Homo sapiens: one gene and its partners. The protein of the gene in region 5 purifies or fractionates together with the protein of the main gene of each other region. This does not show direct contact. Each region holds a gene or a part of one and is shown on either strand. Other genes may lie near its edges.

Region 1 (3,500 bases), about 93 Mb from region 5:
AAGGAGTATGGGATTTCTTGTGCCGGTTCCTTCACATCCTCACTACACTTATCTGCCTTTACAGTGGCTCGATCATAGTTCACTGCATAGCCTTCTGGGCTCAAGGGGTCTTCCAGCCTCAGCCTAATATAGGCACATGCCACCATGACTGGCTAATTTTTTTTTTTTAAGTTTTTTTTTGTAGAGATAGGGCCTTGCAGTGTTGCCCAGGCTGAGGAATTTTATTTATGTTTATTTTATTTATTTATTTATTTATTTATTTATTTATTTATTTATTTATTTATTGAGATGGAGTCTTACACTGTCACCCAGGCTGGAGTGCAGTTGCGCGGTCTCAGCTACTGCAAGCTCCGCCTCCCGGGTTCATGCCATTCTCCTGCCTCAGCCTCCCGCGTAGCTGGACTACAGGCGCCCGCCACCACGCCTGGCTAATTTTTTGTGTGTGTTTTTAGTAGAGGCGGGGTTTCACCATGTTAGCCAGGATGGTCTCGATTCCTGACCTCGTGATCCACCCACATCGGCCTCCCAAAGTGCTGGGATTACAGGTGTGAGCCACCATGCCTGGTCTAGAAATTATTTTATATTTTATACCATTGCCTTATAAGTTCTCAAGCAACTGGAAAATACAATCAGAACGTATTCCTCAAGATTTCAAGGATATTTTACACAAAGTTCTATTGTCTGATTCCTTAGCAGTTGTTACTACTGTTTCCCTAACCTCTAATCTTCTATTGGGTTATTAGTCTTAGAATTGAATTTTGAGAGGTAAGGGCTTGAATTTGAACATAGAAATTTATACAGGTCTGATCAGTAGTTCTTGACATTGTATTATCTGGAAACAAATCTTTAGAACTGAGCTTAAGATGTTTAATGACATTTTGTAGACAGAGTATGATTTCAGTGTAGTTGTTTTTGTTTCTTTCTAGATCTAGTTCAGAGATGAAGTATATCAACTTTTTTTTCCTTTTTGACCCAATGCTAGCAGAAAAACAACACCTTTTAATCATATTTAGTATTTGAAAATGTGTATACAGGTTCCTTTTTATTTTATTTATTTCTTACAGGTTCCTTTTTAATCAGCTTTATTGAGATAGAGTTCATATACTGTATGGTTCATACCACATATGGTTCATATACCATACAGTATATGAACTCACTTTAAGAGTATAATTCAGTGGGTTTAAGGGTATAATTCATTCATTTTAAGGGTATAATTCAGTGGCTTTTAGTATATTTTCTTTTTTTTCTTCTTTTTTTCTTTTTTCGAGACAGGGTCTTGCTCTGTTACCCAGGCTGGAGTGCAGTGACGCAGCCTCAGCTCACTGCAACCTCCACCTCCCAGGTTCAAGCGAATTCTCTTGCCTCAGCATCCTGAGTAGCTGGAACTACAGGCTCACGCCACCACACCCAGCTAATTTTTATATTTTCAGTAGAAACAGGGTTTCACCATGTTGCCCAGGCTGGTCTCGAACTCCTGGCCTCAAGTGATCTGCCTGCCTCAGCCTCCCAAAGTGCTGGGATTACAGGCATGAGCCACCGTGCCTGCCTGTTTTGTAGTGTATTCAAACAGAGTTGTACAACTGTCACCACAATCAGTTTTAGAACCCCAAAAAGAAACCCTGTACTCTTTACCAGTCACTCCCTATCTTCCGTCCACTAACCCCTGGCATCCACTAATTTACATGACCTCTATGAATTTGCCTATTCTGAACATTTTATAAATGGAATTCTAAATACACTACCTTTTATATCTGGATGCTTTTACTAAGCATGTGTATTTTTGAAATTGACTTTAAAGCTTGTTGGCCCCTGGAAGAGTAAATTACTCTCCACCCCAAGTATTCCCTCTACCCCTCAGCTTTGCCTGTAAGTTTCTTTTTAAAAAAATCACACATACATTGTTGTAGTAGATTTAAGAATAAGTATTTTGCTGACCCAAGGTTCTTTTGCTTCTTTCTAGATCAGTGCCTTGCAGGTTTTATTTTACAGAGCTTAATAGAATCAGAAATCTCTTTAAAACTCCAGTCTCATATCCAGTTATCACTCACCATCTCTGTGTTTGCAGCAATAGCCAGGCCTGGCCCAGAGGGACTTGATCTCCACTTTTGGTTTTTAGACTTTTCTGTGGCTTTTACCACCTGCTGTGTATCCTTGACCTCATACTGCTGGACTCCTTTGGATGGATACCAGCAGGATGGTTCAGGCTCCAGTGGGCACTTTTTAAAATTCTCTCCTTCTGTTCAGATAGACAGAGCTCAGGCAGATCACCAAGTCTGTTGCCTGTGTAACCAGGAAAGAGATGCTAGTTTTCTTTTAGGCACTCCCATTTGTTTCTGTTGGAACCTTCCTCACTTAGTTGATGGAAGGGAAGCAAAAGACCCAGAACTCCATCTCAAATTAATGACTTAACAATTCTTGAATTTTCTCTTATCTCCTAGTTAACTCTTTTTCTTATCTCCAGGAGGTCAGTTTTAATTATTGTTGTTTATTCATTTATTTTCATGGAGACAGGGTCTTACTGTGTTGTCCAGGCTGGCCTTGAACCCCTGGCCTCAAGGAATCTTTTCACCTCAGCCTCCCAAAGTGCTGGAATTACAGGCATGAGTCACCACACCCAGCCTGATATTTTTCAGTTGATGTATCATAGTTGTGCCTAAGCATAATTTTTTAATTTTAATTTTTTATTTTTGGGGACAGGGTCTCCCTCTGTCGCCCAGGCTGGAGTGCAGTGATGCGATCTCAGCTCACTGCAACCTCCACCTTCTGGGTTAAAGCGATTCTCCTGCCTCAGCCTCCCGAGTAGCTGGGACTACAGGTACCCACCATCACACCCGGCTAAATTTTTTGTGTGTATTTTAGTAGAGACGAGATTTCGCTGTGTTGCCCAGGGCGGTCTCGAACTCCTGAGCTCAGGCAATCCGCCTGCCTCGGCCTCCCAAAGTGCTGGGATTACAGGCATGAACCACCACGCCCGGCCAAGCGTAATATTTTTAAGGGTCATCAATGTTGTGTCATGAATCAATCAGTGTTTCGTTCTTTTTTATGGTTGAATAATATTCCATGGTATGGATTTGTCACATTTTGTTTATCCATTCATTAGTTGATAGACATTTTGGATTTCCACTTTTTTTTTTTTTTTTTGCTATTATAAATAGTGATACTATGTACAAATTTTTGTGTGGAAATATGTCCTCATATCTCTTGGTTATATACCAAAGAGTGGAAGTGCTGGGTCATATGGTAACTACGTGTTTAACATTTTGAGAAACTGCTAAACTGTTTTCCAAAGTTGCTGTACCGTCGTACATTCCTGCCAGCAATATATGAGGATGCCAGTTCCTTCACATGTTCACTACACTTATCCACCTTTTTTATAATAACTAATGGTGGGTGTGAGATGGTATCTCATTGTAGTTTTGATTTGTATTTCTCTGATGGCTAAATGGCTAATGATGTTTGAACTTTTTGTTTGAGACAGAATCTCACTCTGTCCAGATTCA
Region 2 (3,500 bases), on a different chromosome or scaffold from region 5:
TCATAACATTCTCCACCTCCACCTTCTCTTCAAAGGGCAGCCTGTCCCTCAAGTCCAAGTTTCCTTGTGCATTCATTTTAGCCATGGAAAATTCCTTCGGTTCATCCCCGAGGTGGGTGATGGGAGGGTTCGCCCGTTCCAGGCTTCCTCTTCTGGGAACAGCATATTTAGATTCCTTATGGCTGTCTCCTTCCCTGGCTCGGTTCAGGATGGGGTAGGATGCTTCTGCTTCCTCAAAGGACCCATACTTCTCCATCCCACTGTCTCGACCTGTCAAAGCTCTCTTGCTTTCTGTCTCTCCATATTCTCTCAACATTCCCTTGTTCTCGCTACCCTCTACCAAAGGCTGCCAAGCTTGCGATTTCAGAATGCTTCTAACTGGAGAGTCCGAATTTTCTATTGAAGAAGAAAACTTATAGTCAGTGGCACTTGCATTGTGGTCAAGAGGTGGCTTTGTGCGAAGATCTCCGGCATACATTGGAGCAACCGTGGATGCTACGGTAGACACTGATGTGTTCACGGCAGGTGAGAAAGGAATGAGCTTTCCACTCTGCACCTGGAAGGACACAGTTAAAAATTAAAAAGCTGCTTGAAAAATATCATCTATATAAATCCTGGTTTATGAATTGACAGAAGCTGAAATACTCGATTTGATGCAGTTTCACTGTTTCTCTTAGTGGAAAACCATTCCTGGACATAGTTATATAATACGTCTCATTAAACAAAATCCTCTGGGTGAAACACAGTTGGGCATACTATTTTTTTCTCTCCAAAATGGACTCATTCTAGATATTTCAGCAAGCAAGGTATGAAAACAAAAAAAGAGCAACATACTTGGTAGAATTCTCATTTTTAGGAAGAAAGCTATTACCAAATCACCTACAGGTAGCAGTTTCCTGGTAGAGCACCTTAATTACATCATTGACCTCAGAGGAATACTGCAGTGCTATAATTTAAGAACACACACACACAAACTGCAATCGGACTATAGCACACCCACCTGCTCCACCTCTCCCAGTGTGACTGGCTGAGTTTGATAGCGAGCGTTCATTCTCCTCTGTCTCGTGTCTATTCTGTTCCGGGTAGAAATCGCTTTTGAGACTGGCTGGGACAATTTGTTAAACAAGGCCAACTTTTCGGCCAAGCTTAGAGTGGAGGAATCAGGTTCTCCTTGCTCAGCAAGCTCTTTGCCCTCATTTGTCTGGTCCTTGGCTAAGGCCTTTTGGTGAGCAGAGGCCTGCAATCTGAAAAAAATAAAATGTCAGCAACACATATACCAACAAACAAAAGCACACCGCTAAGTTTCTACGTTAACTTTCTGCCAAGTGTCACATCATTTTGCAAAGGGCTTCTTTTTCCCTAAGCACGTCTAGGACAGAGGCAGGCAGCTGTTCAGCTACTCAACAAGCAGAGTCGGCACAGGACACTTAGCATCATCACTTCTACAAAGAGCAGACTTTGAGCTCCGAATTATTTCTACAAAACGAATTTCCTGTTTAAGACATTGAAGTCAGCTTGGCTATACCTTATCTTAGACAGAGAGGCGGCATTGTTAGTATCGTAATAAGTAGAATGAAAGGGAGTCACAAAGTATTACCTACGGTGTATTTAGACCTTATCTAAAGATATGGTTCAGAAGGTGGTCTTTCATTTTAAATAATTAGGAAACGATATAGTCCTCTGTCAACAACATAACAGAAGGTCTTGATTTTTACTTGCTAAAGACAAATGGCTTAATTTTTAAAGAGTCACTGCTTCAGCTTAGCATTTACTCTCATAGGTTCCTACCAGTTTTCTAAAAGGTACTTAAATCTGCAATTTCCAGTAACCAGAGGAGTAAAGAAAATTTCAGGTGATTATAAATCCCTCCAACTGGCCAGGTCTGGTGGCTCATATCTATGGAAGGCCAAGGCAAGAGGATCACTTGAATTTAGGAGTTGGAGACTAGCCTGGGCAACATCGTGAAACCCCATCTCTACAAAAAATATAAAAATTAGCCAGGCTTGGTGGTGTGCACCTGTGATCCCAGCTACTCAGGAGGCTGAGGTGGGAGGATCGCTTGAGCCTGTGAGGTAGAGGCTGCAGTGTGCAGTGATGAAGCCTGGGCGACAGAGCAAGACTCTGTCTCAAAAATAAATGAATGAATACATAAATCAGTAAATAAATAAATAGCTCCCTCCAACTTCCAGCTAGAAGAGAAGGAAAGCCTGAAGTCTTCACGGTCAATATGAATCTCTAGGGGTTTGTAATGCACTATATCTTCTGTCCCTGACCGATCCAATTGTCAGATCTAGTAAAGGAGATATTCTGCCTTGATTCTAGTGAATCCCCAATGCACAGGCTATCCCAGGCCAAAGAGTAGCCAGCTTCCATATTCCAGGTGTATAATGAGGCCAGTGACAAAAAAGCCACCTGAGCCTCAGAGTCCTCCGTGGACCTCGTGCAGTAACCAGGAGGGCAGGGAAACCCACTTCTCCGGGAGGGCCCTGCTGTGGGTGTACCAGCTTTATCCCGGCACTGCCATTATTTTTAGCTTTTGCGGTTTGGCTCATATAACAGTAAAATGAAGGGATATGACCTGATGTGAGGACATAATTTTAAAGCACCACAATCTGAAACACGACAGTAAAACATCTACGTTTAGACACTACAAATTGTTATTTTCCCAGTCCCAAAATATAATGGCATTGACTCTATAAATTAGAAAGAGGGAGGATTGTTTTCAGTCTGTATTTGTGTCTACAGGTGTTTGAAAAAGACTGGGTCTTATCAGCATTTCAACATTCAGGTTAATGTCTCATTTTTCTTTTTTTTTCTTTCTTTTTTTCTCTTTCTTTTTTTTTTTTTTTTTTGAGACAGAGTCTTGCTCTGTCACCAGGCGGGAGTGCAGTGGCACGATCTTGACTCACTGCAACCTCTGCCTCCCAGGTTCAAGCGATTCTCCTGCCTCAGTCTCCCAAGTAGCTAGGATTACTGGCACATGCCACCATGCCCAGCTAATTTTTGTATTTTTAGTAGAGACAGGGTTTCACCATGTTGGCCAGGACGGTCTCAATCTCCTGACCTCGTGATCCACCTGCCTTGGCCTCTCAAAGTGCTGGGATTACAGGCATGAGCCACCGCGCCTGGCCAATGTCCCATTTTTCTATTAATCTTTATTAAGTGCTATAACAGTATTTAGATGAAGAACAAAATTTTTGAGGGATGACCATTATTATGAAAAACAAACAAAGCAACTGGATACGTGAGTTAGTGTGATCCTAGTTCTAACACATAACATATGCAGAGAGACAAAATGTTTTCCCACGCACGCCAGCATGTGGTTATCAGCACCTTGTGCTATGACAAAACAAAATGCCACGCATTCTGGAACAACTCACGGCATTGACTTGTTTGTCAAACAAACGACAGACATTCAAGACTTTAGGATGCATCTGCTGTTCGGCACCTTTGCACCGGGTGCCGCATGCATCTGTATCTGTCCAGTACCTGGCAGGCTG
Region 3 (3,072 bases), on a different chromosome or scaffold from region 5:
CACCGCCAGGGAAGAGAAGCCCAGAAGGAAGGCCGCAGCACTGGCAAGGACAGAGGTGAGGCTACAGCGAGTGCTAACCAGACTCAGAGATCATGGAGCAAAGCAGAGAGGAGCAGCTGCTCATCCTAAGTTATTGAATTGATTGGTCCCTGCTCCCCTCTTTGGTTCAAGGGGCGCTGAGGAAGGGGCCTGGACACAAAGACCTCTGTGCCCCGAAGAGCTTGGGATCCAGAGTGCTTAGAGATCCTGAGATGAGGGCCCTGACCCCCAGTGAAGCCACCAAGGGGAAGGGTCTGGTGGGCCCCGAGGAATTTAACTGCTATTTTTTGAGGCATGAAAAGGATTTGGAGAGGGGGAGCTGAATTCATTTGCTTTTGTCTGTCGCTAGCTCTGGGGGCCACCGGGGAAGGAGGAGGGAGCCCATCCCATGGGAACGGCCTGAGAATTCCCACTTCCCCAGAATCCTCTCCTTCTCAGACCCTCCAGATGGTGGCTTGGACAATGGCAGCAATTAGCATGAGAATCGGTCCCCCACACAGAGGATGAGGTCATTGGCCTGGGGTGGGAGGAGGAGGCTAGCCTAAGCCTTGTGTGGGTGTGTGTAGGGCAATGTCCGACTGTGTGGGAATCTGCTTCTATGTCTGAGCTCTGCTGTGTATCCCAAATACAGTGTGACTTTGTGTGACCAAGTGTGTGATGTCTGTGGGTATGTGACTGTGTGATTTCACCCTGAGTGTGGCTTTTGTGTGACAGTGTCAAATGAAGAGGAAGCCTGCAGGGCCTGGATGGTGCAAGCTCAGCCTGAGTTGTCCCCAGCTGGCTTGCTGCCTGCAGGCCTGGGGGCAGAGGGCTGACCCCACTTTCCCTCTGTCCTCTCCAGGACCCTCCTGGAGGCTGAGAACTCCCGGCTGCAAACACCTGGCGGTGGCTCCAAGACTTCCCTCAGCTTTCAGGGTAAGAGGAGGGGCCAAGTTCCCCCAGAAACTACCCTGCTTTGCTCTTCATACCCAGACCTATCTTTCCCGAGAGGCACCAATCTAAATTTCAAGTCCGTGGCCTCCAGTGTCAGTGAGCATGCTCTCAGCCCAGCCATGGGCGCCAGGGGCAGGCGCATGGATACTCTTGCCAGCGGTGGCTGCTCTGTGGCTCCCCTCATTGCCAGTGATATACTGATGCTGTTTCTTCCCCCTCTGCCTTTCCAGACCCCAAGCTGGAGCTGCAATTCCCTAGGACCCCAGAGGGCCGGCGTCTTGGATCTTTGCTCCCAGTCCTGAGCCCAACTTCCCTCCCCTCACCCTTGCCTGCTACCCTTGAGACACCTGTGCCAGCCTTTCTTAAGAACCAAGAATTCCTCCAGGCCCGTACCCCTACCTTGGCCAGCACCCCCATCCCCCCCACACCTCAGGCACCCTCTCCTGCTGTAGATGCAGAGATCAGAGCCCAGGATGCTCCTCTCTCTCTGCTCCAGACACAGGGTGGGAGGAAACAGGCTCCAGAGCCCCTGCGGGCTGAAGCCAGGGTGGCCATTCCTGCCAGCGTCCTGCCTGGACCAGAGGAGCCTGGGGGCCAGCGGCAAGAGGCCAGTACAGGCCAGTCCCCAGAGGACCATGCCTCCTTGGCACCACCCCTCAGCCCTGACCACTCCAGTTTAGAGGCTAAGGATGGAGAATCCGGTGGGTCTAGAGTGTTCAGCATATGCCGAGGGGAAGGTGAAGGGCAAATCTGGGGGTTGGTAGAGAAAGAAACAGCCATAGAGGGCAAAGTGGTAAGCAGCTTGCAGCAGGAAATATGGGAAGAAGAGGATCTAAACAGGAAGGAAATCCAGGACTCCCAGGTTCCTTTGGAAAAAGAAACCCTGAAGTCTCTGGGAGAGGAGATTCAAGAGTCACTGAAGACTCTGGAAAACCAGAGCCATGAGACACTAGAAAGGGAGAATCAAGAATGTCCGAGGTCTTTAGAAGAAGACTTAGAAACACTAAAAAGTCTAGAAAAGGAAAATAAAGAGCTATTAAAGGATGTGGAGGTAGTGAGACCTCTAGAAAAAGAGGCTGTAGGCCAACTTAAGCCTACAGGAAAAGAGGACACACAGACATTGCAATCCCTGCAAAAGGAGAATCAAGAACTAATGAAATCTCTTGAAGGTAATCTAGAGACATTTTTATTTCCAGGAACGGAAAATCAAGAATTAGTAAGTTCTCTGCAAGAGAACTTAGAGTCATTGACAGCTCTGGAAAAGGAGAATCAAGAGCCACTGAGATCTCCAGAAGTAGGGGATGAGGAGGCACTGAGACCTCTGACAAAGGAGAATCAGGAACCCCTGAGGTCTCTTGAAGATGAGAACAAAGAGGCCTTTAGATCTCTAGAAAAAGAGAACCAGGAGCCACTGAAGACTCTAGAAGAAGAGGACCAGAGTATTGTGAGACCTCTAGAAACAGAGAATCACAAATCACTGAGGTCTTTAGAAGAACAGGACCAAGAGACATTGAGAACTCTTGAAAAAGAGACTCAACAGCGACGGAGGTCTCTAGGGGAACAGGATCAGATGACATTAAGACCCCCAGAAAAAGTGGATCTAGAACCACTGAAGTCTCTTGACCAGGAGATAGCTAGACCTCTTGAAAATGAGAATCAAGAGTTCTTAAAGTCACTCAAAGAAGAGAGCGTAGAGGCAGTAAAATCTTTAGAAACAGAGATCCTAGAATCACTGAAGTCTGCGGGACAAGAGAACCTGGAAACACTGAAATCTCCAGAAACTCAAGCACCACTGTGGACTCCAGAAGAAATAAATCAGGGGGCAATGAATCCTCTAGAAAAGGAAATTCAAGAACCACTGGAGTCTGTGGAAGTGAACCAAGAGACATTCAGACTCCTGGAAGAGGAGAATCAGGAATCATTGAGATCTCTGGGAGCATGGAACCTGGAGAATTTGAGATCTCCAGAGGAGGTAGACAAGGAAAGTCAAAGGAATCTGGAAGAGGAAGAGAACCTGGGAAAGGGAGAGTACCAAGAGTCACTGAGGTCTCTGGAGGAGGAGGGACAGGAGCTGCCGCAGTCTGCAGATGTGCAGAGGTG
Region 4 (3,500 bases), on a different chromosome or scaffold from region 5:
GCATAGCTAAAACTTTCTGAAGTATGAGCAGTTAAACTGTCTCATATCTCAGTTATTTTTTAAACATATAAACCTTTGACCAAAATCTCTATTACTATGCAATTAAACATGAAAGAGGAATTAAATAAAATGTTAGTTACTTCTGACCTAGTTCAGCAGAAAATAATCTTGTTTTCTTCACAATGCACATTAGCACTTAAGCCACGAGAGACAGGAATCTAAAAAGTAAAGCGATACTAAAAATAACCTTATTGAATACGTGGGGAAGATTTGATAAAAGTACTAATTTGGTTCTTAAAGATAATGGGGTTGTTATTGAGATTCATTGATTAAAAGGAACAAATTTAAGCAATTATAAAACTGTAAATTTGGAGAATTTCCATTATATTTTGCTAGTAAAATTAACCTAATCTAGATAGATTAAGAGAGAAATTCCTTGAAATACTTGAAGAGAGTCATAGGTTAGGTTAGATTAACCTAATTTTACCCAAGTGACAGATCTTTTGCCATATTTGCCTGTGGCCAAAGAAGACTTGGTTTACTTAGTCTGTTTTGTGATCTTTGAAACTTTAATGTAACTTCTGAACCAGCTTTTGCTATTTAGGGGAGGTCAGATGGGACACTCTTGTGTAGGCATCCCCACATCATCTTTATATAGGCTTTCACTAGATTTTACAGTTGGAGTCTTGACTCCTTGCTAGGAACATCACAGAAGGTTCCAACAAAGAGAGCATTCCTCCTTACCTAACATCTCTTCTTTCAGGATAATGATCAGGTCGAGTGTGATTTGTCTTTTTTTTCTTTTCCCCCTCTCCATTGAAGTTACAAGGTCACCAGTTGAAAATGACGGTTACATAGAGGAAGGAAGCATCACTAAGCACCCTTCAACCTGGTCGGTGGAAGCAGTGGTCCTATTTCTAAAACAAACAGATCCTCTTGCATTATGCCCTCTTGTCGACCTCTTCAGAAGCCATGTAATGTATCTTTTGATCCTGTTTTCCTGCTGTAATGCCTTTGAATGACCTCTGTGCAGGTCTTTCAGTTGGATACTGTGTGAATGGTGGGAGAACCCTATTAGCTGATTTTTCCATATATGAGAAAGCTTATTTTGCCCAAGGTTAGCCTTAAATGGTAGGCTAATGGTCTGTTCTTTAAATGGGTGTAGAAGTGCCTAAAATACAAACTGCCTCAGCTTCTTAAGACATGATGATTCAGCATGGCCACTCAGGTGTACCTCCCCTTTGTAATGACAGATACAAAGATCCTCCCCCTATCTGCTCCCAGCTGGGCACCAGGACCACGAGGAGGAGGGGGTAACCACAAGCTATAACAGGGTGGCCTTCGTTTTATATAACCAGTGATTCAACAACTGATTCCATTTGCCTCGATTATTGATGATTTGTAATGCTAATACCCTCTTGCTATTATCAGACCATTTACAAAGTAATATCCTAGGCCGAAGTTTTGTAAGTTCTAGTTTCTTTAATTTTGAGTTTTACTTAGTAGAAAAAGTATAGAAGGTGCCAAACAAAGGTTGTACTATAAGGGATTTCAGACCTTTTCAGATAGTGTTAAATGAGTAAATAAAATTTTATTTTTTAACTGGAACATATAAAACCAAATCATATGCTTCAGCAGCATAAGTTGATCAATTAAGATAAGGAATTTTAGGAGAATGCTTTGTGACTATGTTTTATTTATTCAGATATTTTCACAGTGTGTCCTAACAAAATTAGTAGCCACATATCTGATTTTTAATATAGTAAGAAAATTGGTGATTAGTTTTAGCATCTAATTAGTTTCAGACAACTAATTGGCATTCATCATAAAGACAACATTGTATAGACATTTACAGTTTGCACTGATGTTGACGTACTCATCTTCCCAGCCCTTCTCAGAAAGTTAATGAACATCTGAAATTCATTTTTACTATTCATAGTCTTTACTATTTTGTCATGGATGTGTAGTATTTTATTCAACATACAGTATATATTTAAAATTAAGTTTGACACAGTTTATTTTTTAAGATATTATGTTAAATTTCCTTTTTCTCAGAACTTGAAATGAGTTTATACATTACCAAACGGTGCTTCACTGTACAAGTTATATTTTTAATAGTTTTCATAAAGTAGACGCATATTCAGAGAATATACATCTGCAATGAGCTGCTCTCTAGTTTGCTTTACATGTTCTCATAAAGAACTAACCATTCTGATGAAAATATGGAAGCATTATTAATTATCGTTAAGTTTCTTCTCTCCATAGGAAATTGACGGGAAGGCTCTGCTCCTACTCACGAGTGACGTGTTGCTGAAGCACTTGGGGGTGAAGCTGGGAACGGCTGTGAAGCTATGCTACTACATTGACCGACTTAAACAAGGAAAATGCTTTGAAAATTGAAAAAATCCTTGTGCAAATTTAGATTGGGCCAACTTCTAGAGGCACCAATGCCTTCTTAGTGTGGAATCATTTTTCTGCCCTTTAGTCGTTTTTGTTTTGTAGAAAGTATCTCTCAAAATATATTATAGCTAGAATTGTAGAACTATGTTATAGTCCAGTCTACTTCTTTAAAAACCATTTAAACTGCTAGATAGTATTAGAATAGTCCAATAGAAAATTCATTCTTTATAGGTCTTTAAAAATTACTTTTATTATATTGTTTACAAATATATTTCATGCAAGAAACAGAAAAAAAAAAAAACCCTTTGATTCTGGTTCATCTCGATACAGAGAACCAAAACAGCTAAGAGAGGTATTATCAGGGTTGACAACTCCTATGATTGAATCTATGGGAATTATTCCTCAGAAGAGAATTTAAAGGTGTACCCATATATATCTCTTTCTGGAGTATTTTATCTGTCTGATGTTGCAGTATTCTACAAGTTTCCAGAAAGAGAATAGCCATATAAATTATTTTCCTTTCTGCTATTATTTCTCTATATGTTTTATTTATTCAGATTTAGAGTAAAAAATAAGCATATAAACTTTTATTATGTGCTCTTAACAGTTTTAAGATAAACTATAGGATAGATAGAATGGTTATTTTATGCAAGAAATATTGTACCGCAAGGGTGGTTTGGATGAAGTCTGACTACTTTTTTTCAAACAAACTATTATATTAAAACTGTCATATTTTGGCTAAGTTTGGACCTATAACTACACTTTCATTGTTTGCATCTCTCTATGAAGATACGTCTGTCCAAACTTTTAAAAGGCATAACTGTATTTTATGTGTTTATTCTTTATATAGATAGTATTTTATATTTTATTCTCACCCGAAGTATTCACACAATCTTTTTAAAAAAAATTTGAAATGGCATTTTGTATTGCCACAGAGGTAGGATGAGCCATATATTAGTGAAATGTTTTATTTTGTAAAATATAAATGGATTATTTGCCATCATTAGTACCTCTCAACTTACTTTTTAGAGGACAAGAAACAATCTGTAGATTGGTTTCCATACAGGGAAGTTCTCCGTCCTATGCAATGTTTCTAATTA
Region 5 (3,500 bases):
TTTAGAAATTATAATGCACAGATTAGGCACTTAAGAAACTATGAAACTAGTTAGCAAATATCAGCAAAATGCTTTTAATATATAATGATATTACTTACATCAAACTGTGTCAGGACTGTTCCAGTGATAAGCCCCTCAGCTAGCTGGATCATTGACTCCCGCAGGGAATGGTCATCCTGATGCACACTATCTAGTGGGGCTTTCTCAGGAATATACTGGAAATCTGGCTCATTTTCTAGCTTTTCTTCCACTACATCATATACAGCTAAAAAAAAAAAATCAAACAAACCCCAAAACGTGGAAATCTTAATGAATTCACACGATAGGAATTTACCAGATACACTGTATAATGTTTTGTTCAAAAAATAATTCATTTGTGAAGAATTACACCAGATCTGAGTCTGGTGTCACTATGGGGGGACAGAAACTAGTTGTGGAGTTGAGGGGCTTTGCTGTACCTTTGGAGGGAAGAAGTGTTCTTGGCTACATTGCTGAAAATGTCTATAACTTGAAGAGACAGTAAGAAAGAAGAGCTGCTGAGAAGCAGCTGTGAATACACCCGCTCTTAATTTGTAGGGGACCTAGGGCAAGAGTACAAATAGAGACCTATATACCATATGTTTAACTATGAGAAGTTACAAAAAACTTGAACACAGTGCTAAACAAAATATGCTTCATCCTCTTTCTGTGATGTATCTACAAAACAACCTGGGAGGCCAGACTATAAATGAGAATTCTAGGCCAGAATTCATGGTCATGGTAATGTGAGGAGATTCAGACCCTAGATCCTAGGCCTGTATTCTACCGTTACCCACTCTCAGTCCCATTTTTTAACATAGGGGCTTATAAACATACATGTGAAGATCCCAGCCCACATGCAAGATATATCTATACCTGTCCCTCCACAAACTGTAGCCTCTTAGCCACCTTCTGGGCTAGGATACACACACCATGTGAACCCACCTTGAGAGAACGGATGTGTGGAAAATACCCATGAAGATCTGGAGAGGCTCAGGGTTATCTGGACCCAGAACTGAGGTTTGAAAAAAAGTGGTATAGAAAGGGAAGGGAGGTTACAGCTTGGCATGTCCTTTTGGTCCTATAAAATTATGACTCCACTGGGAGAAGAAAGAGAGCCAAAGCAGGGCCTTCTAAAACATGGAGCCAAGGTAGGGGCCTCTTTACCCTTGCCTAAGAGATCTGGTTCCTCCTTGAATATCTATACATTTTTTTAGAAAAATAAATTTCTGAAATGAAGAATGAAAAGACAAAAAGGTATGACAACATTTTGCCTAAGAAGAAATAAGAATTAAAGGAGAAAAGATCAGAAAAACAAAAATATATTCTTGGCAAACACAGTTTTAAATTTTAATTATATGAAACTTTAAGAATGGAAAAGACAGACCCACACTGAAAACAGATGCAGGTTCTGCTCCGTATTTTGACTATGAAACAATTTAGAAAGATATTTTGCAAGAAGTAGACCCTGGTGGGTTCCTCTCATACTATAAAGCAAAAGGATGAGATCTGGAATTGTAAAAAGGCTGGGTCTTTGCCATCATATGGATTTTTGTTCATATTCTGGCTCTGTGGCGTCATGAATCTGTGAGCAGGTAACTGAATGTCTTGGTGTCAAAGTATCTTCAGCTCTAGAATGGGGATAATTCATCAATCTCATTGGATGTCTATGAGGATTAAATGAAAATATACAAAAGAGCCTAGGTGCACAGAAAGTTTTTAATAACTATTAGCTAATATTATTGAGTTCTTTAGGATCTATTATCAAGAGAAAATATAATACAATAAATACAGAAAAAAATGTTATTCCTGGTTTAAAATTTAAGTAGCTGTATGTGACAGAAAACACCTAATGACTCACCTAAGTATCAAGTCTAAATGAACAAGTTCCTTGAAAAGTCAAAATAGAATGTTCTGTTGAAGTCCTTTTAATCTTCCTAGAAAGCCAATTCTAGACCATTAATGGAAAAGAACACAAAGTGGAGAAGATAAAATGAAAACGCCTATTTGTGAACAAGAGGTACAAAGAGGATTTTTTATTTTTTGTTTACAAAAAAGAAATATCCTTGCAAAATTTTGCAGGGTTGGGTGTGGTGGTGACAAGTAGAATTCGAATGATATTTCACTTTCCTATGGTACATATTCAAGTGGTAATATGGCATTAACAATAATTATTCTGTGGCTAAAATAATGATTAATAGTAAATTGTATAGAACAAAACCAGAAGAATATGTCTAATCCTGGGATATTAGACATATAAAACTTTTTTCTTAGAGCAGACTGATAAAGTGTTGAGGGAACTCTAAACAATGCCATATGAACACTGGCTGAAGACTCTAGGACTCTTAAACTGGAGAAAGGGAGGTGGGTTTCTGGTAAAATTAGCTATTGTCAAAAAACTGAAGGAAAGGGGGTTAAACTTATAATGCATAGCACAGAGTGACAGACTTAGGAGCAGGACTGAAGAAAGATGGACTTTTAGTTCAATTTATAGTTTGAGCTATCCAAAGATGGAATGACCTGTTTCAGGAGCCACAAAGTGCTCTATCTATATTGGTAGAATGTTCTTGAGGTTGTTGTGGAGGAAATTCGTGCAATTAGCCAAAGAGCTAGAGCTTACGGCATTCAAGTTTTCTCCAAACCTGGAATTCTATGACTATGAATTAACAAGTCAGCTGTCCAGATTGGGAGATGACATGATTAGGCAAGTAGACATCATATACTGAAAACAAAGGCAGTATTTTAAAAACACTTTAACTATAGCTTGTTATGGCATTTTCTAAAAGTGGAACAGAGTTCAAATTTACTCATTCATTCAACTAGTATTTATTGAGTACTAGTACTACAACTATTACCATTTAGGGGAAATGGGAGACCATTTTAGCTATGGTAGTCAGGAGAGAAAGCCCTTCTGAAGATGATATCTGAGCAGAGACCTGAATGAAGTATAGGTATAAGTCATAACAAAATCAAAAAGAGTATGTCAGCACAGGGAACAGCAAGGATAAAAACCCTAATAAGTCGATTAGATTGGAAGATCTGAGTAACTGCAAGAAAGCTAGTGTAGAATAGAGGAAAGTAAGCAAGGCTGAGTGGGAGCAAGGGGTGGGGGGGCAAAGAACTTGAATTCTGCTCCACGTGTCAATGAAAGCCACTGTGCTTTGAGCAGGAAACTTAGGTGACTTATGTTTTATGTCAGAAATCTGGCTGCTGTGCTCAGTAATGAACAGTAATAAATTACTATAAATTATCTGGTACTACATAGAGTACTCACCATTAGGTCGAACTAGAAGCATGAGTTCCCCAGAATGTCTCTCACAACTAGCTTTAATAAACAGCACAACCTGATCATGAGTGTGTTCTGCAATGTCCCGACCATTGATCAGTACAACTTGGTCCCCTTCATTCAGTCTAGGGACACAGAGGTCAGCCTGTAATATAATATAGATAAGGTTTCAGATTGGCATGCAACTTTCTGAAAG
Region 6 (3,500 bases), on a different chromosome or scaffold from region 5:
ACAACTGTGCCTGCTAATTCATACCTGTTACGTGGTCGGAGTTGAGCTAGTCAATTTTATGAACGTTTGCAAAAGATATTTGGTACTTTTTTCTGAAAAGAATATGTTACATTTTTCCTGTAATTCCATACAAATTTTTGATAGTGCACTAAAGAAAATCCATATGACAAGAGATTGTGGAGTAATTAGAGTTTAGTGTGAAGGTGGTAATTTGGTAGTCTCTACGTTCCCAAGAATAGTGTCATTTGCACTGGAGTAACATTCATGGCCAGGGATGTGCAGATAATAGATCAGCTGAGATGGCAGTGAACTCTCAAACATGTTCAAGACTCCTAAGTGAATTGAAGTAGAATCTTGTCTGGAGAATACTGATAGAGACCAAATCCTACTCTGTGGCTTTACTGTCTCTTAGAAGCATTTACAGCTTAGTAAGTGTCCTATTGATGACCTGCGAGTGATTGGGGAAGCTCATGACAAGCATCACTGTTCCTCTCCATCTCAGGCTCTAAAATCTAAATCTTTATTAGGATGTGTATTATTTGGAAGGTGCTTTGGGAGCTTAAGTGGAAAATTGAAATAATTCTAAAGTTGATAATATGAAGGGCCTTTGTTGAGCACAGTAATTTGGGAGATGAGTTGGGAGGACATTTTTCATAATATATTGCCCTATTGGGCAGTTGGGTAGCTCAGCCCTTTTTAACTCCCATCCCTCGCCAGTTCAGCATCTCTCTGTTTCATGGGAATGATTGTTAATAAAGAAATTGGATCCATACTAGAAAATGACCATTTCCTTTTGAATTAGCCTTTTTCTTGTCTCCTTTTCGTATCCTTTTTATGGGTCCTTTCTGGTATGGGCCTTCTTTCCCATCAACAACTTTTCACCTGCTGACATGTTAAAAATTGCTTGCACAGGGAAGTTACTATAAAAATCAACATAGCAAAAAGAGTTAATTGCCCATCTAAATCCCCCACCTAAATTAGTATTTTTTTTGTCACTTGGTCCTCTGACTTTTATTAATTATTTTCTTGTTTATTCAGTTCTGTTCACATTACTTGTGTCAGTAGAGTTTTGAGAACTATTTTGAAATCACTTGCAGGAAAGAAGTGCTATTTGAACCTCATTCTGATTCATCAAGCCTCTGACAAGTAAAGCAGGAGTTTTCTCTTTTGACAGTGTGATGCTTGATTCTTGTGAGTCTTGGCAAGGATAGATCTGAACAATTGAGGGAAGGACAATTTCATTTTCTGCCAGTGGGCAGCCTTTTCAAATGAAATTAAACTTGATCCTCAGTTTTGAAGTGATAGTTGCTTTTTATTAAAATTTTACAGAGGGCAGCTGTAGAAGATATAAACCCAGCAGATGACCCTAATAATCAAGGTGAGGATGAATTTGAAGAAGCCGAGCAAGTGAGAGAAGAAAATTTGCCAGATGAAAATGAAGAGCAAAAACAAAGTAATCAAAAGCAAGAGAATACAGAAGTGGAGGAACATTTGGTGGTAAGCAGATGCCACGAGGAAGGGTGGATTTAACTGGGCTATTTTAAGAAACATCTGGTTTATGTAAAAGGTTAGTCATATTCCACATTGACGGAAGGTTTGCCACTTCGGTGGTTTTTAGGCCACTTTATGACATGATATGCCTGTACTCTGAGAGAGAGGGTAACGGACATCCTGGGCTTTGTATTGGGAATGATTACTCATCATTTCCTGGCCACAGACGCTTTGAAAGTGCCCTTTTCATGGTGGCATGCTTGTTCTTTGTCCCAGAGTACTGTGTAAAAGGCATCTCTGATGTACAGTAACATGAACCTGCCCTTTTGTTTCCAACAGATGGCAGGAAATCCAGACCAGCAGGAGGACAATGTTGATGAACAGTACCAGGAAGAGGCAGAAGAGGAGGTAGTAAGGATTGAATCCCAGAGACTGATCAGATTGGTCTGTCACACACACTAACCTTAAACAAACCTCAGCAGTATTGACTTTGACATGCCTTCCACAGAAATGTTCAGAAAAATTTAAGCAGGATAAGAAAGGGTGGTTTAAAGCAAAAATGGATCATGGCACTGGAGACATTTGGTTAGAAGATAACAAAAGCAGGGTAATAGAATCCATCTCTTTGGTTCTCACCTGAAATTTTGAATTAAGAAGGCATTTGGCTTTCCAGGAATGGTGGACTTAGATTTGTGCAATCTTTTGTAAGAATATTTTCTCCTCTCTCCCTCTGCACATTGAGGGAATCTGGACTGCCCCTGTAACTTTCTCTTCAGGCATCTCCCCAGTGCCTACCTCACAGGAATACCCCATAGTGTCTATCGGAATCCACTTAACACCCTCCAAACATTTTTGTAAATTTTACAGTCTCTCCTTCTGGCCTCTTCCTTCTTAAGAATTCAGTATCTTAATTAAATTTAACAATAAAAGAGGAGGAAAAAGATGTAAAGAGCTCAGCTGAATAAAATGCATTTGGATAGAGTTTCTTAATATTTTAGTTTGCTTTTCATTGTAAACTTCGGGCATCTTGTTGTTAATTAGATATAAGTAGCGTTTATTGTGGTGCTGCTTACGGTGTAGTTGATTATTGTGGTGCTGCATGTGGTGTAATTGGTGAATGCTGCTTGTTGTAGCCGTTTTATCACAGCATTCCGCTGCATAAACAACTGCAATATTTAAGAGTCTGATACAAATTAGGCCAAGACCCTGTATTTAGTCTCATTATGGACCAGTAAGTAGTTCCCAAATTAAAACCCTGGTTCAGAGCTGCTTCTCAGCCAGGTGTCTTGCAAATGTGTGGTTTTATCCCTATGGGGAACCCCATGGGAGGATGGACATATGGCAGACTGAACAGACACACCCCATCACTGGAGATCCTGTGCAGAAATCATGAGCTGTGCTCTCACACACACAGTTCCCTCGACTAGGTCTGCTTTCTTGTTCTTACTGATTTTGTAAGCTTTTCAGAGCTGATGATAAAATTTGTGCTTATACCAGGAAAACAGAAAAGGATGTTGCTCTTTAAGGTCACTGGCAACATTTCTAATAACATGCACTTTAACTGGCTTGATCTTTTTGTTCTTTGGTTTCTCATCCTAATCAAGACCCTTGGCTGTCTTGTCAGAAAGAGAGCAGCAGAGAAAATAGTGACCTTGAATATTAAGACATTGGGCAAGAAAAAGATATTCATCCAGGCTTCTCATATAACAGGATGTCTAGACTAATACCACTTTGTTTTATTATGTCCAATACTAGGAATCTTTGAGGGATTAAAAGAGAAAAGTTCACCTTGGCTTCTTTTTTAAAAATTCAGAAGATTAAACATAAAATTTTAACCAGTGTTTACTGATTCCTTTTCAATTTTATATTATGATCAGTTAAGGTACAGGAGAGAAATCCTGAGATCCAAGAGGAATCAAGAGTAGAAAGAGAAGAAAGAGGCAAGAGGAAAGGAGAAATGGTGCTAAGACAGAGGAGGTTGCCCTGGCTGAGTGCTGCCTAAACTCAGC
Region 7 (3,500 bases), on a different chromosome or scaffold from region 5:
TGGACAAGACAATCTTGAATGTCAACAAGGTACTTAAATGCAAAATGATTATCCTTTTAGACTTAATACAATGCACTAGCATTGTGGGTAGCCAGGCAAAAAATCTGAAGTATCACATAAATATATTTGATATTTCTGAAGTATCACATAGATATATTTGTGCTGAATTTAGATAAACACTTATTGAAATGGTTCATGTGGCCATAATTCTGCAATTAAGAACCAATGGATATGCCCAAGGCTAGATGGAGGCTATAATTGGAGTAAGACCAATATAAACTAATTGTGCAATTTTTCTTCCATCTCAATTCTTGGCATATCACTTTAGCTCAAAGATACTGACCACTGATTTTGGTTAACAATAGAAGAGGGGGCCAGAAAGTTTAGGTATAGAAATACACGTGTTCTTAATCACACAACCGTACCTGCTACCTGCAGAAAACCTACTGGCTTCTTTTTCTTTTTCTTTCCACTTCTTTCCCTTGCTGGAATTCCTTCGCAAAGGCGCCCTGTAATGATAGTAAGCAGTCAGAAAGGGGAAGCTGAAATTTTCTCTTTCAATCCTCCTTTTACAGAGGGCTTTCTTTTTACATCGTGAAGTGCTTACCCCAGATCCACAAACTTCCGCTTAATTTTTCCTCCTTGCACCGCCAATGAACTGGATGCCCTTAGTGATTTGGGATCTTTGGCATCATCTAGGATATACACATTTGTGAAAAAGATCAATTATTATTATTTTTAAAGTCACAATTCAAAAGTCAATGCATCTCTGAATCTAAGGGCTTTGCCTAAATTCCTAATTGTAAAATAAATAATCAATGCCTTCTTATACGACCTAGGAGACACAGTTACATTGAGGAACTCGCAGTTAAGCAGGGGAGGTCCTCTATAGGACAGAGGCTCAACATTCATCACAAAGAGTTTTAGCTTCAACTGCATGGGAATGAACAAGGGAGAATAAATACTCTCAAATCATCCTCTGCATTCGAAGTAGGGACCAACATGACTTTTGTTCCTTCTCTGGCTCCAAATTCTTGGCTTCAAGTGCCTGGGCTCTGTCCTCCATTCCTTTCTTGCCTTGGGGTTGTAGTGCCTTCTAACAGGAACATAGCCCACTTCTCCCGTATCTCCAAAGCCCAGCGCAGAATATCACCTCTGAGAGTCTGGGAGATTTAGGGGGAAAGTCAGAGTCAAAGTTTTCTTCTCTGGCTCTCCTTTGCTAATGGCCTGTGGCCGGTCCTGGAACAGAGGAGGGGAGGACATGGGGGAGACTCCTTAAACAGGGGCTCAGCTACAAAACATTTATATCTTTGAAAGGGCCTTCTTAATAGTTAGGTTACAGCAAAACTTGGCTGGTTCCCCTTAATGTGGAAGATGCCAAAATCTCCTCAGTGTTCAGAGCAGACTGATCTTTGCCTCTAGGACTCTCAAAGGTAGCAGCTGCTGGGGAATGGGGACCCTCGAAATGATACCAAAAGCCAATAGGAAGACAGGCTTTGCAAATGGAGTTCAATGTCAAGGTGGGAACCAATTCCACTGGTGGCACTTGTTCCATCTCGGACAGGCTCTACCCAAACTATTCAGCAGAGGGTACTGATCGGCATCACGTTTCAGCATATCCAATTAGCTCAGATGATTAACAAATGCTGTTTTAAATTTGATGTTTTTTATGTGTGAAACTCTTCCTCCCCAGTTCTTTTTTGGTATCTGTTTTTCTGTCTCTTATCTTTTAAAATGTGTTTTAAATTTCTAGGAACTTTCTAGTATGGAAGGCAAAGAGAATGGCCCTCTTAAAAAAGTGTTCAATTAACTTTGCAGGTTAATGTTGCTCATGATTTTTGTTTACTTCAAGAGAAATTTCTCAACACACATCGACATACACCTTTAAAAAACATGAAGTACACACACAGTTCATGGATAGCAGTCTAGGTTCAAAGCTCTCAAGCAGCACAGGACACTGACAAATACTCCAAATGTTTTTAGCAATGAGCTTTTCATATTTTTAGTTAATGATACTTAGATTACAATAAGCAACTCACTGAAATGTACATAATGAAACACAAGAGTCAGAAATATGTCTGTGTCAAAAATCCACTTCAAGCCTCAAATATTTATTATGCATATTTGCATCATTACTCTTTGGGTAACTGAATTGTCACAGATGTGACACAATCATATAAAAAAATCCATAGACATAGACATGGCACAAACACCTTCTAAGGTGATTTTACTAATGGATTTTATTTTTAAAAGCAAGATTTAAATTTTCTTAATAGAAGCTGAAGAAAAGAAAGTGCCAAATTCTTCCAGATCAATCCTAAAGCAACTCTTAATGGCTAGGACTATGCAAAGTTAAAAGGAGACTGCCTAATTATTTCCTGAATGAGAGGTAGCTGGGAGATGTTACAATGAGCGCTGAGAAGACCAGCTGAGGCAATGTACACGAAAACACTCTGTAACCCATGAGTGTTGCAGTTATTTGGACATCATGCGACTAAAAGCCTGATTCTGCCTATCACAGAGCTTGGTGCTAGGCAACCTTACATCTTTATCTCACACATTTGCCAAAGTGCGTTCCCAGGAACACTGAAATGAATGCTTCCATAGGGCTGAAGATGTTAAGAATAAGGAATAATGTACTTTCCCATTTAAAATCGATTAAATCCATCTTTAATGCACACTAGAACTTCTAGTCTGCATAAAATCCAACATTAGATTGGTATGATTTCAGGAAAAAAGAAACATACATTTTGTTTATTTAGCTCTACGTAAGACTTCTGTTAGGCTTTTTAAAATCTCTCCAATACTACCTTTGTGACCAATTATACATCTGAGCCCCCAGATTGGGTGCCTCAACTTTAAGCTGTGGCAACCTGGTTTTCATTTTCAAATAATAAATGATCTCCTGATGGCCAAATCCTAAGGTCTTGTACTGGACTGCATCTCCTTAATCTCACTGTAATAAGATACTTGACTATCTCTTCCTTTATAATGGGGACTCCCAAATCTACCTGGCAGTCCTGACCTCTCTCTTGCGCTCATGACCTCCTCTGTTAAAAAAATGAGTTAATCCTATTTCCCCCATCATGTTGCTGATTTCCTATTTTCTGTTAATGACAAGACCATATGTTCTGAGGCGTGAAGCCCATGATAGTTTTGCCTCACTTTCTTACCTGTTACCTAGTCAAGGTATGTCTCAAGGGTCCTTGAATCATTCTTTCCTGTCACTGTCTACTGCTCCTCTTTAGAGGGCACCACCTCATAGGGTCTCCTAACTCAGCTTCTCCATACCTGGTGGTGTCTTTTCCTTTTTATTCCTCTGGTCAAACTTCTTGTGGTTTCCTAGTAATATGGCAAGTTATCTAAGATGTTTAACTTCTAAAGCTATATACTTAACCTACTGGCTCACTTTTGTGTGTAACTACTCCACCCTGCATAAGCAAACTGCTACAGCCAGGCTGGGATAGCCTTGTACCTTTAAATCATATGATATGTGCCTG

Evidence for each region.
Region 1: the proteins of PTPN4 (region 5) and PPM1G purify together in Homo sapiens (affinity purification with mass spectrometry, with the first as the bait; one large-scale study listed by BioGRID). This does not show direct contact.
Region 2: the proteins of PTPN4 (region 5) and SVIL purify together in Homo sapiens (co-immunoprecipitation; one large-scale study listed by IntAct). This does not show direct contact.
Region 3: the proteins of PTPN4 (region 5) and NES purify together in Homo sapiens (co-immunoprecipitation; one large-scale study listed by IntAct). This does not show direct contact.
Region 4: the proteins of PTPN4 (region 5) and SCML1 purify together in Homo sapiens (affinity purification with mass spectrometry; one large-scale study listed by BioGRID and IntAct). This does not show direct contact.
Region 6: the proteins of PTPN4 (region 5) and GOLIM4 purify together in Homo sapiens (affinity purification with mass spectrometry; one large-scale study listed by BioGRID and IntAct). This does not show direct contact.
Region 7: the proteins of PTPN4 (region 5) and PPP1R9A purify together in Homo sapiens (co-immunoprecipitation; one large-scale study listed by IntAct). This does not show direct contact.

Annotation. Positions count from the first base shown.
Region 1 is NC_000002.12:27,399,592-27,403,091, reverse strand, and holds part of PPM1G (protein phosphatase 1G), read left to right. Parts: intron 1-3,500.
Region 2 is NC_000010.11:29,523,472-29,526,971, forward strand, and holds part of SVIL (supervillin), read right to left. Parts: coding exon 3,490-3,500; intron 1,245-3,489; coding exon 1,001-1,244; intron 557-1,000; coding exon 1-556.
Region 3 is NC_000001.11:156,671,336-156,674,407, reverse strand, and holds part of NES (nestin), read left to right. Parts: intron 1-880; coding exon 881-954; intron 955-1,202; coding exon 1,203-3,072. UniProt on the Homo sapiens protein: Required for brain and eye development.
Region 4 is NC_000023.11:17,750,993-17,754,492, forward strand, and holds part of SCML1 (sex comb on midleg-like protein 1), read left to right. Parts: intron 1-822; coding exon 823-974; intron 975-2,265; coding exon 2,266-2,400; 3' UTR 2,401-3,500. UniProt on the Homo sapiens protein: Putative Polycomb group (PcG) protein. PcG proteins act by forming multiprotein complexes, which are required to maintain the transcriptionally repressive state of homeotic genes throughout development.
Region 5 is NC_000002.12:119,951,922-119,955,421, reverse strand, and holds part of PTPN4 (tyrosine-protein phosphatase non-receptor type 4), read right to left. Parts: intron 3,450-3,500; coding exon 3,293-3,449; intron 266-3,292; coding exon 99-265; intron 1-98. UniProt on the Homo sapiens protein: Phosphatase that plays a role in immunity, learning, synaptic plasticity or cell homeostasis. Regulates neuronal cell homeostasis by protecting neurons against apoptosis.
Region 6 is NC_000003.12:168,022,925-168,026,424, reverse strand, and holds part of GOLIM4 (Golgi integral membrane protein 4), read left to right. Parts: intron 1-1,329; coding exon 1,330-1,497; intron 1,498-1,830; coding exon 1,831-1,899; intron 1,900-3,500. UniProt on the Homo sapiens protein: Plays a role in endosome to Golgi protein trafficking; mediates protein transport along the late endosome-bypass pathway from the early endosome to the Golgi.
Region 7 is NC_000007.14:95,271,094-95,274,593, reverse strand, and holds part of PPP1R9A (neurabin-1), read right to left. Parts: intron 696-3,500; coding exon 608-695; intron 510-607; coding exon 426-509; intron 1-425. UniProt on the Homo sapiens protein: Binds to actin filaments (F-actin) and shows cross-linking activity. Binds along the sides of the F-actin. May be involved in neurite formation. Inhibits protein phosphatase 1-alpha activity.